Regions from separate parts of the Homo sapiens genome. Here region 1 is linked to region 2. A link means that fine-mapping ties the variant in region 2 to the expression of a gene that starts in the linked region. Tissue or cell type: whole blood. Region 2 holds a variant in brackets; the other region holds the start of a gene. All regions are shown on one strand. Distances are from middle to middle.

Region 1 (8,177 bases), 21 kb after region 2:
CCTCCCTCAACTCCACCCAGGCTGGTCCAACAGGGAACCCAGGTCACTTGCCAGCTTCGTGAGTGGCAGGAAATGAACCAGCAATGCCTGAGCGCGTACCCATGAGCAGACTCTGCTGGGAGCTGTCGGCATGCTTCCTGCATCCTGAGGAGGCTGTTAGCACTCCCAGTTTGGAGGAAAACAAAGTCCCAGAGCGGGTTTCAGGAATGATGAGAAAGAGAGAGGTAAAGGGTCTGACATAGAGCAGGTGCTCAAGTGACACTTCCCATCCTGATGTTAGGGCTACAAGACCAGGATCACCATCCCCAGGGTTATTCTGAAATATGCCTCCTGCACCATGACCTGCTCTGATCCTCACTTCAAACACTCAATGACACCTGGAAAGGTCAGTATCTGGTAGCAGCTGGGAGTGTGGGCTGGGCGCGGTGGCTCATGCCTGTAATCCCAGCACTTTGGGAGGCTAAGGCAGGAGGATAGCTTGAGCCCAGGAGTTCAAGACTAGCCTGGGCAACATAAGGAGACCCCAACTCTACAAGAAAATCAGCTGATTTTGGTGGTGCACACCTGTGGTCCCAGCTACTCAAGAGGCTGGGGTGAGAGGACTGCTTGACCCAGGAGGTTGAGGCTGCAGTGAGCTATGATCACACCAATGCACTCCAGCCTGGGTGACAGAGAGAGAGACCCTGTCAAAAAAAAAAAAAAAAAAAAAAAAAAGAGTTGGAGTGTGGGATATAAAGCCAGACAGATCTGAGGCCACACCTGGCTCCACACTTCCTGGCTGGGTGACTGTGGCCCACTCTTTGGTGGCCCCTATAACTGTGCTGCCTATGATTCATCCCTTGTGCAGTCCCCATGCCACACTGACTCTGACCTGGCCGTGGACTCAGTTAACTCGAAGGAACACAGTACCAGTTCTGGGTCCATGCATAAGACCTGGCAGCATTAGCTTTGTGCCCTTGGAAGCCAGTTGCTGTGCAGGAAGTCTGATGGCCCTGCTGGAAAGAAAGGACCTGGAAGATGAGATGACATGAAGGAAGAGGCCACGAAAGAAGCACTGAGAGGTGGGGCATGGCGGCTCATGTCTGTAATCTCAGCACTTTGGGAGGCCAAGGTGGGAGGATCACTTGAGGCCAGGAGTTTGAGACCAGCCTGGCCAACATGGTGAAACCCCGTCTCTACTAAAAATACAAAAATTAGCCAGGTGTGGTGGCATGCGCCTGTAGTCCCGGCTACTTGGGAGGCTGAGGCAGGAGAATAGCTTGAACCCGGGAGGTGGAGGTTACAGTGAGCTGAGATCTTGCCATTGCACTCCAGCCTGGGCAACAGAACGAGACTGTCTCAAAAAAAAAAAAAAAAAAAAAAAGAAGCACTGAGGCACCAGCTATATGGCGACAAAGCCATCTTAGATGCTGCAGCCCAGCTGCACCTTCAGAGACTCCAGGCCCAGCTGCCATCTGACCACACCAGACTCCAAGTGAGGTCAGACCCTGCTAAGCCCAGTCAACCCAGAGCATCATGAGATATTATTGGTAGGGGCCACCTGGCTGCTCCTCTCTGTCCCCCCCTTCTCCTTCATTCCCTCACCTCCTGTGTCCAGTCAGCCCTCACCTGGCTGATTCTCCCTCTAAGGCGAGTGCCCTGCCCATCTCTGTCCCTCTTCCTGCTGCTGTGAGCCCAGCCAAAGCCTGTGTCTCCCTGTGAGAAGCCACACTGACTTGTCCAGCTGCCACACAATGCCAGGCACCTGGCTGGGCTCTGCCCACAGGCGTGACACCCAGCTACTATTTTAGTTTTTGAAGAGACAGGGTATCGCTATGTTGCCCAGGCTAGTCCTGAACTCCTGGGCTCAACTGATCTTCCCACATCGGCCTCCCAAAATGTTGGGATTACAGGCATGAGCCACTGTGCCTGGCTGACTCCACTTGGATTTCTACTGGGGCACTGCATTTACCTTCTTTAAAACTATAGCTTTGGTTCCCCCTCCCTCAACTCCCACTCCAGAAAACCTGCTTTACCTGCAATCCTTCCCACCCCAGTAAACAGCACCTTCATTCATCAAACTGCCCAGCCCAAAGTCTTGGTCATCCTTGACTCTTCTTTCTTTCCCAGCTTACATCCAACCCAACAGCTAACCCTGAATTCATCCTTGAAAACCTATTCCAAACCTGTTACCTTCCACTGGCTCCATCACGACTGCTCTACTCTGAGCTCCCATTATTAGTCTCTTAATAGCTGCCTAAGTCTCGCATAAGTCTCATTCTGGCTTCCAGCAATAAAATCTCAGCCCTGCCTCTGACTACAACCTCAGGGTTAGAAGGGAAAGAAATGCATTTACTTGGCCAGGCATGGTGGTTCACGCCTGTAATCCCAGCACTTTGGGAGGCTGAGGCGGGTGAATCACTTGAGGTCAGGAGAGCGAGACCAGCCTGGCCAACATGGTGAAACCCCGTCTCTACTAAAAATACAAAAATTAGCTGGGCATGGTGGTGGGCGCCTGTAGTCCCAGCTACTCAGGAGGCTAAGGCAGGAGAATCGCTTGAACCCAGGAGGCAGAGGTTGCAGTGAGCTGAGATCATACCAATGCACTCCAGCCTGGACAACAGAGCGAGGCTTTTTCAAAAAATTAAAAAAAGGCCGGGCGTGGTGGCTCACGCCTGTAATCCCAGCAATTTGGGAGGCTGAAGCAGGCGGATCACCTGAGGTCAGGGGTTCAAGAACAGCCTGGCTAACGTGGTGGAACTCCATCTCTACTAAAAATACAAAAAAATTAGATGGGCGTCGTGGCAGGCGCCTGTAATCCCAGCTACTCAGGAGGCTGAGGCAGGAGAATCGCTTGAACCCCGGAGGCGGAGGTTGCAGTGAGCCGAGATCGAGCCACTGCATTCCAGCCTCGGTGACAGAGCCAGACTGAGTCTCACTGAGACGGAGTCTCACTCTGTTGCCAGCCTGGAGTGCAGTGACGTGATCTCGGCTCGCTGCAACCTCTGCCTCCCGGGTACTGGTTCAAGCAATCCTCCTGCCTCAGCCTCCCAAGTAGCTGGGATTACAGGTGTGTGCCACCATGCCCGGCTAATTTTTGTATTTTTAGTAGAGACAGGGTTTCACCATGTTGGCCAGGCTGGTCTTGAACTCCTGACTTCGTGATCCGCCCGCCTGACTTGTTAAATCCTTACCACAACCCTGTGAGGCAGACTTTAGTGCTACTTTAAGTAATAGGTAGCCGGCTTGCCCAGGGTCACACCACTAATTTGTGGTAGAGGCAGAGTCAAACTCAGGTCTGTCATGCCAGAGGTAGTGCATCCATGTGTTTTCTGTATGCCTGAATTAGATCTGGGAGTAAGGAGTTAATTGTCCCCAAGGTCCATTTTCCCCAGTGTCACCGTACAGAATCACCTAGACCAGGGTTAGGGTTTCTCAGCCTCAGTGCTACTGACATTTGGAGCCGGATCACTCTTTGCTGCGGCAGGCTGTCCTGTGTATCGCAGGGTGTGTGGTGTCATCCCTGGCCTCTAGCCACTAGTTGCCAGTAGTCCCCACCCCAACCCAGTTGAGAACCAAAAATGTTTCCAGACATTGCCACATGTGCTTCGGGGTGGGAGTTTAGGGGGGTGGAGACTACCCCCAGGTGAGAATCACTGACCTACACTGATTATTCCCTCTCCCCAGCATAATGGACCCAGTTTCTGTCTTACTGTGAACTCTTCTGTTCTCCACTGCACACATTTATGGTGTTAAGAAAAAATAATTTATCGGAGCCTTATAATACAATACAAACAAAGTCGTCATGGGCATGGCCATTCAATATCAACAGCTGAGACTGGGTGCGGTGGCTCACGCCTGTAATCCCAGCACTTTGGGAAGCTGAGGCGGGCGGATCACTTGAGATCAGAAGTTCGAGATCAGCCTGGCCAACATGGTGAAACCGCATCTCTACGAAAAATACCAAAATTAGCCAGGTGTGGTGGCGGGCGCCTGCAATCCCAGCTACTCGGGAGGCTGAGGCAGGAGAATTGCTTGAACCCCGGAGGCAGAGGCTGCAGTGCTCTGACCCCGCCAAAAATAACTAATTTTTTAAAAAATACAGCATGTTTGAATCTGCCAAACAAAGTTGTCTTGGAAACAAACTTTGTGGTGACTTCGAGCGGCGAGCATGGCCATTTAATATCAAGAGCTGGCATCCACTGAACATGTATGCACTGCTTTTTACTTTCATGACTTCCTCTCAAGTTCCCAACCCTCTTAGAATAAGTTACTACCCTGACTCGTACAGAAGAGGAAACTTGAGGCACGGAAATAAGAAAGTCACTGGCCTAGTGTCGCAGGGCAAATAAGCCACAGCACTGGAATCCAAACCCGGGTCTCCAGCTCTGGCCTCCTTTCAACGCCAGTTCTAGCTCTCCCCTCTGCTGCCCACTCGGGCCAGCGGGGTCTTCTCATCCTTGGAGCTCCCCCGGCAGAGGGCGACTCTTCTCTCACTCACGTACAGCATCCTCTCCCCGTAATTAAGGTCTCCTCTGACCGCTCCCCTGCCCTCGGAGCGTCCCAGCCCTGACCCCAATTTCCAGTCTCCCGGCGCCGGGTGTTCCCGCCTCCCCGCCGCCTTCTGCTTCTGCTCACCCGCTTCTCCTGCATTTTCTCGAAGGCCGCCTGGGCCGGGGTCCGCTTGTCCAGGCCGCGCCGCTTCTCCTCCTCGTTCTTTTTGCTCGTTCCCATTGCTTCCAGGAGTTTCGCTTTGTCTTTGTCCTTCTTTTTCTTCTTCCTGGAAAAAGACATGAGGAGGCGGCGGGTCGGAGGATCAGGGCCAGGGGTCCCGAGAAAAGGTCTAAGGGGGATGAAGACGGAATCCCGCGGGCCCTCGGGCCTCACCGCTTGGTCACTCCCAGCTCTGCGACGCCTTTCAGCTTCAGGGGTCCCTTTTGGACCTGCTCGTAGGCCTCCATGACACTCTCCAGTGCTTCGGTAGCTGGAGTGCCACACTTCCTGTTTGCAAACACTATTTCCGCCCGAATGGCCGCCTCGCTTCTCTTTGATTGGCTGAGCTACAAGGTGAGCATGCGCTCTTGGTTCTGGACCCGGGCCACACTTCCGGGTAGTGGGCGGGACAGAGAGCCAAGCGAATGAGTGCCCTTCGATTCCTATCTGCTGCCACACTTCCGAATTTGGCGCCCACTTCCGGTCTCCCATTCTTCACACAGGGTGCTGGAAACCCAACCCCTTTTTGAGCGTTTTGCGCACTTTTGGGTGACCTGTTCTCTCTCCTTGATTTTTTTTTCTTTTTTAGAGACACGATCTTGGTCTGTCACCTAGGCTGGAGTGGAGTGGCGCGATCGTGGCTCACTGCAGCCTTGAACCCTTGGGCTCAAGAGATCCTCCCGCCTCAGCCTCCCCAGTAGCAGACTGCAGACGGGCGCCACTGAGCGCGGCTAATATTTTCATTTAAATTTTTTTGTCGAGATGGGGTCTCGCTGTGTTGTCCAGGCTGGTCTCGAACTCGTGGGTTCAAGTGATCCTCCTGCTTCGGCCTTCCAAAGCGCAGGGATCACAGGCCTGAGCCACGCCCCACCACCCCCGTTCTCTTTTATTGCCATATTTTGAGCGTTCACTGGATAGCTGAACCTAATTTTGTAAACCTAATCAGTATTCATTAATTTTTCAGCTTTAGGTAAATGACAATATCATGTGACAAGGTTGGTGGTATGTTAAAACAATTAAAAATCTATTTTATGCCGGGCGCGGTGGCTCACGCCTGTAATCCCAGCACTTTGGGAAAACGAGGTGGGCGGATCACGAGGTCAGGAGATGGAGACCATTCTGGCTAACACGGTGAAACCCCGTCTCTACTAAAAATACAAAAAATTACCTGGGCGTGGTGGCGGGCGCCTGTAGTCTCAGCTACTCGGGAGGCTGAGGCAGGAGAATCGCTTGAACCCGGGAGGCGGAGGTTGCAGTGAGCTGAAATCACACCACTGCACTCCAGCCTGGGCGACAGAGAGAGACTCCATCTCAAAAAAAAAGTACATATATATTTAAATCAGCACTTTGGGAGACCAAGGTAGGCGGTTCACGTGAGGTCAGGTGTTGGAAACCAGCGTGGCCAACATGGCGAAACCCTGTATCTACTAAAACAAAACAAAACAAAACACAAAAAGCAAAAATTAGCTGGGCATAGTAGCCTGCGCTTGTAGTCTCAGCTACTTGGTAGGCTGAGGCAGGAGAAGCGCTTGAACCCGGGAGTCGGAGGTTGCAGTGAGCCAAAATCGCACCACTGCACTCCAGCCTGGTCAACAGACAAAGACTCCGTCTCAAAAAAAAAAAAAAAAAAAAAAAATCAATAGAGATAGGGTATTGCTGTGTTGTCCAGGTTGGTCTCAAACTCCTGTCCTCAAGCAGTCCTCCTGAAGCATTAGAATTACAGGCGTGAGCCACCACCCCTGGCCCTTTCTTTCTTTCTTTTCATCCTTTCAGTACTGTGCGGTTTTCTTACATACGATGTGTACATGCATATATCTTTTTTTTTTTTTTTGAGACAGAGTCTCGCTCTGTTGCCCAGGCTGGAATGCAGTGGCACGATTTTGGCTCACTGCAACTTCCACCTCCCAGGTTCAAGAGATTCTCCTGCTTCAGCCTCCTGAGTAGCTGGGATTACAGGCGCCCACCACCATGCCCCGCTAATTTTTGTATTTTTAGTAGAGATAGGGTTTTGCCATGTTGTCCAGGCTGGTTTCGAACTCCTGAACTCAGGTGATCCGCCTGCCTCAGCCTCCCAAAGTGCTGGGATTACAGGCGTGAGCCACCGTGCCCGGCCCTTGAATATATCTTTTTAATGTCAGCAGAGGACTATCGGAATTTTTGGTTTCTTCTCTATTTCCCTCTGTATCAAAAACCTAGTAAAAAAAAAAACTATTATGGGAAAAATTTAAAAAGGCTGTGCCTACCAAGTATCTGTGAAGATGTGTTGAAACTGGAACTCAAACGTGCTGCTGTTGTGAATGTAAAATGGCATAAACAGTTTAGAAATCAGTCTGACAGTTCTTTAAAAGATTAAGCATTCACTTATACTATGACAAAAGAATTAGATTCCTACGTTTTAACCCAAGTGAAATGAAAGTATAGACCCATATAAAATTGTGTAAATGAATGTTCACTGCAGATTTATTTGTAATAGCCAACAAATTAGAAACAGCCCTAATACTGCCCTAGATAAATGAATGAACACAATCCGTGCCCACAAATCTTGGCTGACTTTTGCAACCAATGGAATTACTAGGTCCAAGGTTATGCACGTTTGCACGTTTTATTTCTCATAGATTTTGTCCAAATTGTGCCAGGGTGGCTTTTTTTTTTTAATTGCTGGCGGGGGGTGGGGTAGTGGGGAGAAGGCAAAGGAGGTGGAGAAGAGAGAAGCAAACGTCCCCAAATCTACCGGACACAAGAAAAAGGAGGGCACAGGGGCTGCCTTTCTCAGTCTTACCTGCAGGGGGCAGCAAGTCACTGCCTAATTATCCGTCCACACCTGGAAAAGACTGTGCAGAGGGGCTTCTGGTACCAGGGGATGGGGGCTGCCAGCACTTTTGTGTCAAAAGCAAGGCGATCTTTTTGCCGGGCGCGGTGGCTCACACCTGTAATCCCAGCACTTTGGGAGGCCGAGGCGGGCGGCTCACGAGGTCAGGAGATGGAGACCATCTTGGCCAACATGGTGAAACCCCGTCTCTACTAAAAATAAAAAAAATTAGCCGGGCGTGGTGGCGCGAGCCTGTAATCCCAGCTGCTCAGGAGGCTTGAGGCGGAGAATCACTTGAACCCGGGAGGCGGAGGTTGCAGTGAGCGGAGATCGTGCCACTGCACTCCGCCCTGGCGACAGAGCAAGACTCCGTCTCAAAAAAAAAAAAAAAAAAAAAAAAGAAAAGAAAAAAATTAGCCGGATGTGGCGGGGCACACCTGCGGTCTCAGCTCCTCGGGAGGCTAAGGCAGGAGGATCACTTGAGCCTGGGTGTAGGTGTTCGAGGGTGCAGTGATTTAGGATCTTGATTGATGCACTCTAGCTTGGGCACTAGAGCAAGACCCTATCTCAAAAAAAAAAAAAAAAAAAAAAAGGAAAAGAAAATGATTATGTTGAGTCTTGAATACAAATTAAAAAAAAACTACAAAAAAAGAAAAAGAAATAGTAACGTGCCAAT
Region 2 (8,177 bases):
TCACCACTCCTATTCAATATAGTATTGGGGGCTGGGCATGGTGGCCGACGCCTGTAATCCCAACACTTAGGGAGGCCGAGGAAGGCAGATCACCTGAGGTCAGGAGTTCGATACCACCCTGACCAACATAGTGAAACCCTGTCTCGACTAAAAATACAAAAATTAGCCGGGCATGGTGGCATGCGTCTGTAATCCCAGCTACTTGGGAGGCTGAGGCTGGAGAAGCACTTGAAGCCCGGAGGTGGAGGTTGCACTGAGCCAAGCATGCCACTTGTACTACAGCCTGGGCTACAAAGTGAGACTCTGTCGAAAAAAAAAAAACACTGCTAAGAGAATAAAAAGATAAGCTACAGACTGGGGGAAAATACTTGCAAATCACCTATCTGACAGAGGACTTCTATCTGGAACACACAAAGAACTATCAAGGCTCAACTATATGAAAATAACCCAATTTAAAAATGCTAAAAAGATGCACAGAGACATTTCTCCAAAGAGGATATACAGATGACAAAGAAACATGTAAAGCAATGCTCAACATTATTAGCCATTAAGAAAATGGAATAGGCCAGGCGTGGTAGCTCACACCTGTAATCCCAGCACTTTGGGAGGCAGAGGCGGGTGGATCATCTGAGGTCAGGAGTTCGAGACCAGCCTGGCCAACATGGTGAAACCCCGTCTCTAGTAAAAATACAAAAATGAGCCAGGCCTGGTGGTGGGTGCCTGTAATCCCAGCTACTCGGGAGGCTGAGGCAGGAGAATCGCTTAAGCCTGGGAGGCAGAGGTTGCAGTGAATGGAGATAGTGCCATTGCACTCCAGCCTGGGCGACAAGAGCGAGACTGTGTCTCAAAAACAAAAACAAAAACAAAACACAAAACTGTGCTGACATACTACTACATACCTATTAGGATGACAAAAATAAAACTACTGACAAAGGATGTGGGGTCATCACAACCCTCATCTGTTGCTGGCGAGAATGCAAAACAGCAATGGTTTGGCAGTTTCTTATAAAGGTAAACATACACTTACCGTGTGACCCAGCCATCCCACTCCTGGGTATTTACCCTAGAGAGATGAAAACTTATGTCCACACATAAACCTGGACACGACATGTTTCTAGCAACTCTATTGACAATTGCCAAAGATTGGAAAACCACCCAAATGTCCTTCTGTGGTTCAGAACAGAAAATAAATATAAATAAATATAAAAGGGAACAGACTTTTGATATGCAAAACAATTGGATTTGGATGAATCGCAAAGAATTAGAATGAGTTAAAGCAGCCAGACTCGAGAGCTCATGACTGTATGACGCCATTCATACGACAATCTCAGAAAGACAGCTGCGGTGACATATGATGCCACTCGTGTGACAATCACAACACGATGAAGACTCCAGTGATGGAGAACAGTTCAATGGTGGCCAGGAAATGGGGAAGAGGGGAGCATGGAGCTACAAAGGGGCAACATGAGGAGGTTTTGAGGTTCTGTGTCCTGGGTGTGGTGATGGGTACACAAATCTGTACAAGCGCTAAAATTCATTTTCAAAACGTCAACTTTCCTCATAATTAAAAAACCAAAAGAAAAAAATATACAAAACAGTAACACTGAACGCAAAATCAAAACCCAAACAACAACCACCACCAAAAAAACAAGCTGCAGGAGAACCACATCTTATGATCTCAGGTTTATAGAAAAATCAATATACTTGTTTCTGTCTGTCTACAGAATGAGGCCCGAGAGGGTGACGGTGAATAAATCCTAATCTTTCTGATTATAGGAGCCCTTTAGTTTCTTTTTTTTTTTTCTGTGCATGGTGACTGATAAGAGCCCTTCACTTTCTAACCTCATACCCTGCTTCTAATTTTTAAAAATAATGTGCATGTATGGATTCTCAGTCAGCATAAATGCTAATAAAGAAAACAAGCTTTAGCCGAGCGTGGTGGCGGGTGCCTATAATCCCGGCTACACGGGAGGCTGAGGCAGGAGAATCGCCTGAACCTGGGAGGCGGAGGTTGCAGTGAGCCGAGATCGTGTCACCACACTCTAGCCTGGGCGACAGAATGAGATTCCGTCTCAAAAAAAAAAGATAAGACAAACTCACATTTCAATGAGTGGCCCAAACTGAATCCTGCTATCTGTTACCACACAGAACGGCTCTCGGGGCTTTGCCAGTTTTAAAATGCTGTGTTTATTTCTATCGTGGAAGAGATAAAACCCTACAGAAGAAGGAAAGAAAAGAGGCCTACCAAGAGGTTGACAGACTCGATGACGTCCAAGAACACCTCATTCTTCCGATACTTGATGCCTTCGGACCGCCAGGACACCGCGTTGGTGACGGTGGCTGGTGGCCGCGGGGCCCCTGTTTCCAGCTTGTGGCCTTCCTGAGTGATGTACCTGTGGGGCCACACGCTCAGAGTGAAGGAGGTGGTACCCGCACCAACGCCACAGCTTCTGGCCTTGACATTTCGGCAGGGTTGGGTGGGGGGTACAGGGCAGGTTCTGACCGACTTGAAAATAGCCCTTGGATTTCAGCAGCTCCAGAAAAGGCAGCCTCTGGTTCACCTGGGGCTGCTTCATACAGAAAAATCTTCACAATTTCCAAAAGCCAATACACTCAAGTTATAGAGGCTGAAGTGCTCATTTTGGGGGACCAAGAAGACCATGTTGGGAAGGAAAACAAGAAGTGGGTGTGAGCTGCTTCCCGTCCCTGCTGAGCACGTGGATGGAACTGACGCCTCGGAGTGTAACCTGGTGACCCCATCCTGCTGAAGGAGCAGGAGGTGCAGCGGTTAGGAACACAGGCTTCTCTGGGAGTCTGCTTGCTTGTCCCCTGTAAAATGGGGAGACGGTATACGGGGAGGCTGTGAATCGAGTGAATGTGAAGTGCTGGGGCCCGGCCCCCAGGAAGCACTTAATTCACATTGCTTCTTATCTGAAGGGCAGGATTCCAAAGAGGGGAGATTTCGATCACAGTCTCATTTTATGACAGTAAAAACAAGGGAGGTGACTCCTTAGTAGCAAGGTACTGAAGGCATCTGTGTGGATGGAGAGTAAAGATGAGGAGCAGGAAAAGCACGGTTATGTGGGGGCGTAGAGGAGGAAACGAATTAAAACCACTAAGAGCAACTTAGTAAAAACCCGAATACTGCTGGAGGTGGGAGGCAGGTGGGGGACAACATGAACACAAATTTGCCCCTTCTGTTTCCACACCTGATGACGTCGATGTCATGACACCGCCCAGGCCTGGCCCCAGGCCCCACCCCTGCCCACTCACTCCTGCAGGATCTTGCTGTCGGTGGTCTGGGGGTAGCCGAAGTCCATGAGCTCGTCCAGCAGCTCGTAGATGATAACAAAGTTGTCCCGGATGCTCTCCTCCTCCAGCTCCTTGAAGTACTCGGAAAACACCTGTGGCGGTTGGGGAGGGAGGGAGGAATGGGAGGCAGATCATTGAGCGGACGGATGAGGAATGAATGAACGCTTGCACACATTCATTTGCCCGCTAAGTCCTACCAACAGCCTACTTCCCAGGCTCGGTGGTGTGCTACAGGGCCCTGGACCCAGGTTATGGGGCAGGACAGCAGTGGCTGGCTGTGGGGTGGGGCCAGGCTGGAGCCACTGCAGATGTCCCGAGGCCTTCAGAAGCTCTGCGTTCCCATTCTCTTCCCTGCCCAGACACCCGCAGACAGGCAGCCCCTCCTGAGCGACTGTAACTGTCATCCCTTTCTGAGTCTGGAGTGACTCAGGCAAGGACCTGATGAGCTGCCATCTTCCCCATTTCAGTGGAAAGCTTGATGCATCTTCCCCATTTCAATGGAAAGCTCAGAAGGTTAAGGAAGGGACGCCAAAGAAGAGGGGCTGTTAGAAGCACTTTTGCAGGCACAAATGCTGAAGGAAGGAGCGTCACTAAAACAGAAAGGCACAGCCCAACCCTTGGGTGAGGACCTTCCCCTTCC[C/T]GCATCCCCCATTCTCTGATCTGCTGACCCCTGCGCGCTTCAGGACTGTGATCACCCGGCCTCTGCTTGGAAACCACAGGCAGCACAGCCAGGCCCAGCCCTGCCTGTGACAGCATCACCGGTCCAGTGAAGGCAGCCCTTGGCCTGCACGTGGGGCCTTCCCAGGTGACCCTCGGCTCCTTCCCCAAGCCCTCACCGCCCAGGCTTGCCCCTGTTCCCCAACATTCTGCACAGGCAGCATCAGTGAGGGATGAAAGCTTTCCCAGGCCCAGCACAGGCCTCCTGGGTCCTGTTCCCCACTTTCGTGAGCCCCACAGCCCACCTCGGCCAGGCCCATCCTCTCCGGGAAGCCAGCAGCAGCCTCCTCACTGGCCTCAAGTCCTCCTTCTGCTCAGCAGCCAGAGAGGCTGCTTTAGATCAAACCACGTCTTGTCAGTCTCCTGCTTAAAGCCCTCCACTACCTTTCATCAGAAGTGGAATGAAATCCACACTCCTGTATAATCCGCCCTCTTCCCAGCTGACCTCAGCCTCATACTCTGCCACACGCACGCTGGCCTCCCTAGCTGCACCACACATACACCTGTCCTGGCGCCTTCACCCTGGCTGCTATCTGTGTCTCACTGGCAGCCTGGGCCTGGCGTGTCAGCTCTCTCCAAGGTGGGCGTCAGGCATCTGTGCCTTGAGAGCCCCCTGGGAGATTCTGAGGTGGGCTCAGCTCTGCAGCTCTGCTGGTTATTCCAGCCCCATCCAGCTGGTCACCCCACATCCTTCCAAAGCTCGCTGACCCCTGCTTGTCCCTTCCAGGGTCAGGGCACCCCTGCTCTGAGCCCTACCTTTTCCTGTTCACTTTCCTTTCTTCCCCACGGTAGGGGAGCAACGTGAGCTATAGAATTCCACAGGCGTGGGGAGTTGGGACTCCCCTTTCCCACTTCCTGGGCTTCCAGCCCCAGTGCTCCCTGGGGATGCCACAGCTCTCTGTAGGGTGGCCAGGTATGGGGAGGTCCACAAGCAGAGCCAAGACAACCTCCACCCAAGCCCACGGCCCCTCCGAGCGAGACTCACCTGCACCACCTTATAGAGGAAAGAAAAGACCAGCGACACGCACGCGTTCTTCTTGGATGTGGCAACCACTGCATGGCGGCCACAGTTAAGGAGCATTCAGAGGCTGGGGCTGCTGCCTGGAAGATCCTGGTTCATGGAGGGACCCCCTAACCCTCACAACCCTCAGAGCCTTCCCTATCCCCACTCCCAGCCGTTTACTTGGCCCATGGTGGGCTACAAAGCTCCTGGTCCAAGCTAGACCTGGGACACAGGAGTCACCAGCCAGATGCGCTCCCAGGCCCCAGGGAGCACTCACTGAGATGGAGAATCACAGGGATGGCAGGTGGCACAGGGCACCTGTCCCGGCGGCTGGGTGAAGGGCTGCCTTGAGCAGGGAGGGAGTGAGGCTCATTCCAGGAGCAGAAAGCAGGACACACTGGCCCTGCTCCTCCAAAGCTGACCTCATCATGACCCTGCTGAGGTCCAGGGTCCCCCGGCCAGACTCTGTGGCAAGCAGCCAGGGCCAATTCTGGCTTCAGCCCTTCCTGGCTTTGGAAACACAAGCCTTGGCCCATGAAATAAACCTTTCTAGAGAAACCTTGATATTTCTCTCCTGTGTAATGGAGGCCTGTGAATGAACTCACCAAGGCAATGTAGGTGAGATGTCTGGCACAGATGTTCCCTTCTGCCACAGGAGCCAGCCCCTGCCTCCCAGGGTCAGTGTGTGCTGGGCGCTTCCTATTCCTTTTTCCCTAATGGGTCCCCGGGCCGCCAGAGAAGGCTGGTTCTTCCTCTGTAGGCCCATGCACTGCACCCTGGACATCCCTGTTCATGGCACATCTGTGCTGCCTGGCTCGTCTGCCCAGGAGTGAGCTCTAGGAGGGAGGGTGGGGGCTGTATCCTCTCCCTTCCCGCCTCACCCCAGCACAGCACAGGGGCCCAGGAAAGGGACGCTGGCCCAGTCAAACGAGTGCTGGCCTCCCTCCTGCTGCCTGGCAATGTGCCCTCCCCAGATGCTTTATAAGCAGGGGCAGTGGGGGCCTCTCACCTTCTCATGGGTGCCTCTCAGCCACGGCCTTGCTGAGCACTGTCCCGGCTGGGGGTGAAACGATGTCCACTAAGCCAGAGGGGTGAGCCCTCCCTGTCTCTTCCCTAGATGCCCAGGTGTGAAATGTGGGGGCCCAACCAGAAACTGATCTGATGGCTCCTGCTGAGCTCAGACCACAGCCACCTCTCCCTCTCCCAATACCTGGGCGGCTTCAGAGGACTGTCAGTTCCCTGGGTTAAAAGCCACCTAGGCCGGGCACGGTGGCTCACGACTGTAATCCCAGCATTTTGGGAGGCTGAGGCGGGCGGATCACGAGGTCAGGAGATCGAGACCATCCTGGCTAACATGGTGAAACCCTGTCTCTACTAAAAAAATACAAAAAAATTAGCTGGGCGTGGTGGCGGGCGCCTGTAGTCCCAGCTACTCGGGAGGCTGAGGCAGGAGAATAGCGCGAACCCGGGAGGCGGAGCTTGCAGTGAGCCCAGATGGCGCCACTGCACTCCAGCCTGGGCGACAGAGCGAGACTCTGTCTCAAAAAAAAAAAAAAAGCCACCTAAGATCATCTTCAGAGCTATTCTCAGGGCCTTCCAGAGCCAGGTGAAATCTACACAGAGGCACACCACAGGGAGCCCTGGGCCAGCACGGCCCACATGGGAATGTGCACACCGGCCACCAGGAACAAATCTTCCTACAATGCAGATTCTGACGGGGCAGGGCTGGGTGGAGCCTGGGATTCTGCATTTCCAAAGGGCTCCCAGCGGATATTCTGGCCCGTTGGCCACACTGTACTGGCAAGGCCCCAAGTGTCTCCAAGAACACAGGAAAGGGCACAGAGCCCATGCCTGCTGGGAGCAATATGCACAAGTCAGTTCAACTGACCCGAATGGTCCTGCAGTGAGGGGTCGTTGTTCCCACTGAACTGTGGGAAGGTGAGGGATCCCCCATGGCTGCTGGAGCTGGGGCTCAAACGGGCTGTGAGTGGCAAAGCAGGCCCTTCCGCAGTAGTGTGGGTACTGAGATGGGCTTGCGGGTCTGCCCAAAGCTGTGGGGTGGCCAGTTAGACCTCCTGGATAGAAACTGGCTTGGCCAAGTCTCCCCATGGGCCCAAGGACAGGAAGGGTGGGGGGCTCTGAGATCTGGGCGGGGCTGTACCCCACCACCCCTCCGTGGTCCAGGCCACTTCCCCTCCCACCTGCACGATGGCCCCAGCCTACTCCCCACCTACCCATGTCCTCTCCTGTCCCCACAGTCTTGCCCCACTCAGCAGCCAGAAACCTCCAGAAGACACACATCTAAAAGCCTCCAGAGACTTCCTGTCACATTTCAGATGATGTTCTTTGAGACCCCAGACCCCGCTGACCACTCCAGCCTCGCTGCCCTACACGCCCCCTCTCCAGCCACCCCGAGTGCAGCTGTTGGAATGAGGCTCTTCCCTGCAGAGCCTTCACCCACGCCTAGTGCCTGCCCACCCCTCCAGCTGGCAGAAGCCAGGCCTCCCTGCAGGCTTCCTCCAGGGTGTCATTTCCCTTCCTGGGCCCCTGGGCTGAAGAGGTTCAAGTCACACCTGCTCCTCTCCCCACACCCATCACACATGTCATCGTGCATTGTCTGCCTGTCTCCGCAGGCAGCAGGGAGCTCCAGGAGGGCATGGCTGTGTCCAATGCTTGCGCTGTGCACAAACCAGCCCTGCTTGCAGGCGTGTGGATATGCACACACACCAACACCCACACAGGAGTCCCCTGGGAGCACCCCCAGCAAAGGGATACGATACAGGTTGTTGTGTTTGATCCACATGAAACGGACCCCCCCGTGGGCCAGGATGGGCGACAGCATCCCCTCCTCCTCCTTCTCCATCAGGATGGGCATGAAGTGCTCCACCTCTGACATGTCCACGTCGCCACGGTAGTTCCGGCAGATGAGCACCTGGGGTGGGGAAGGAAGAGAAAAGATGCTTGCATTTTCAGTTCTACAATCTGGGGGCTTGGGGCAGGGGGTGAGATGCACCACCCTGCTTCGCTCTGGGGACTCCGGTCATGGCCACTATCCGCAAAAGAGCAGGACTTGAGGCCGTTCTGATCTCCATCCCCCAGGGAATTCCTGGAGAAGAGCATCTCCCAGTGTGAATGCCCACAGGGG

What was found. PIP is the estimated chance that this variant, and not a neighbour inherited with it, causes the effect.
Region 1: FAM32A starts here. The variant in region 2 is fine-mapped to the expression of FAM32A in whole blood (TOPMed, PIP above 0.99).

Annotation. Positions count from the first base shown.
Region 1 is chr19:16,182,206-16,190,382 of GRCh38, reverse strand. FAM32A (family with sequence similarity 32 member A) reads right to left here and starts at 4,973. Exons shown (of 4, transcript NM_014077.4): 1 at 4,867-4,973; 2 at 4,618-4,759. The coding sequence starts at 4,940. RefSeq lists enhancers at 5,379-5,428, 5,331-5,966, 7,190-7,689.
Region 2 is chr19:16,203,246-16,211,422 of GRCh38, reverse strand. AP1M1 (adaptor related protein complex 1 subunit mu 1) reads right to left here. Exons shown (of 12, transcript NM_032493.4): 2 at 7,808-7,964; 3 at 5,015-5,082; 4 at 3,274-3,404; 5 at 2,246-2,393. Among named protein-coding and RNA genes, the nearest start is that of AP1M1, 9.4 kb to the right of the region's middle. RefSeq lists a silencer at 6,846-6,995. The variant C/T (reference allele first, on the strand shown) is at 3,953.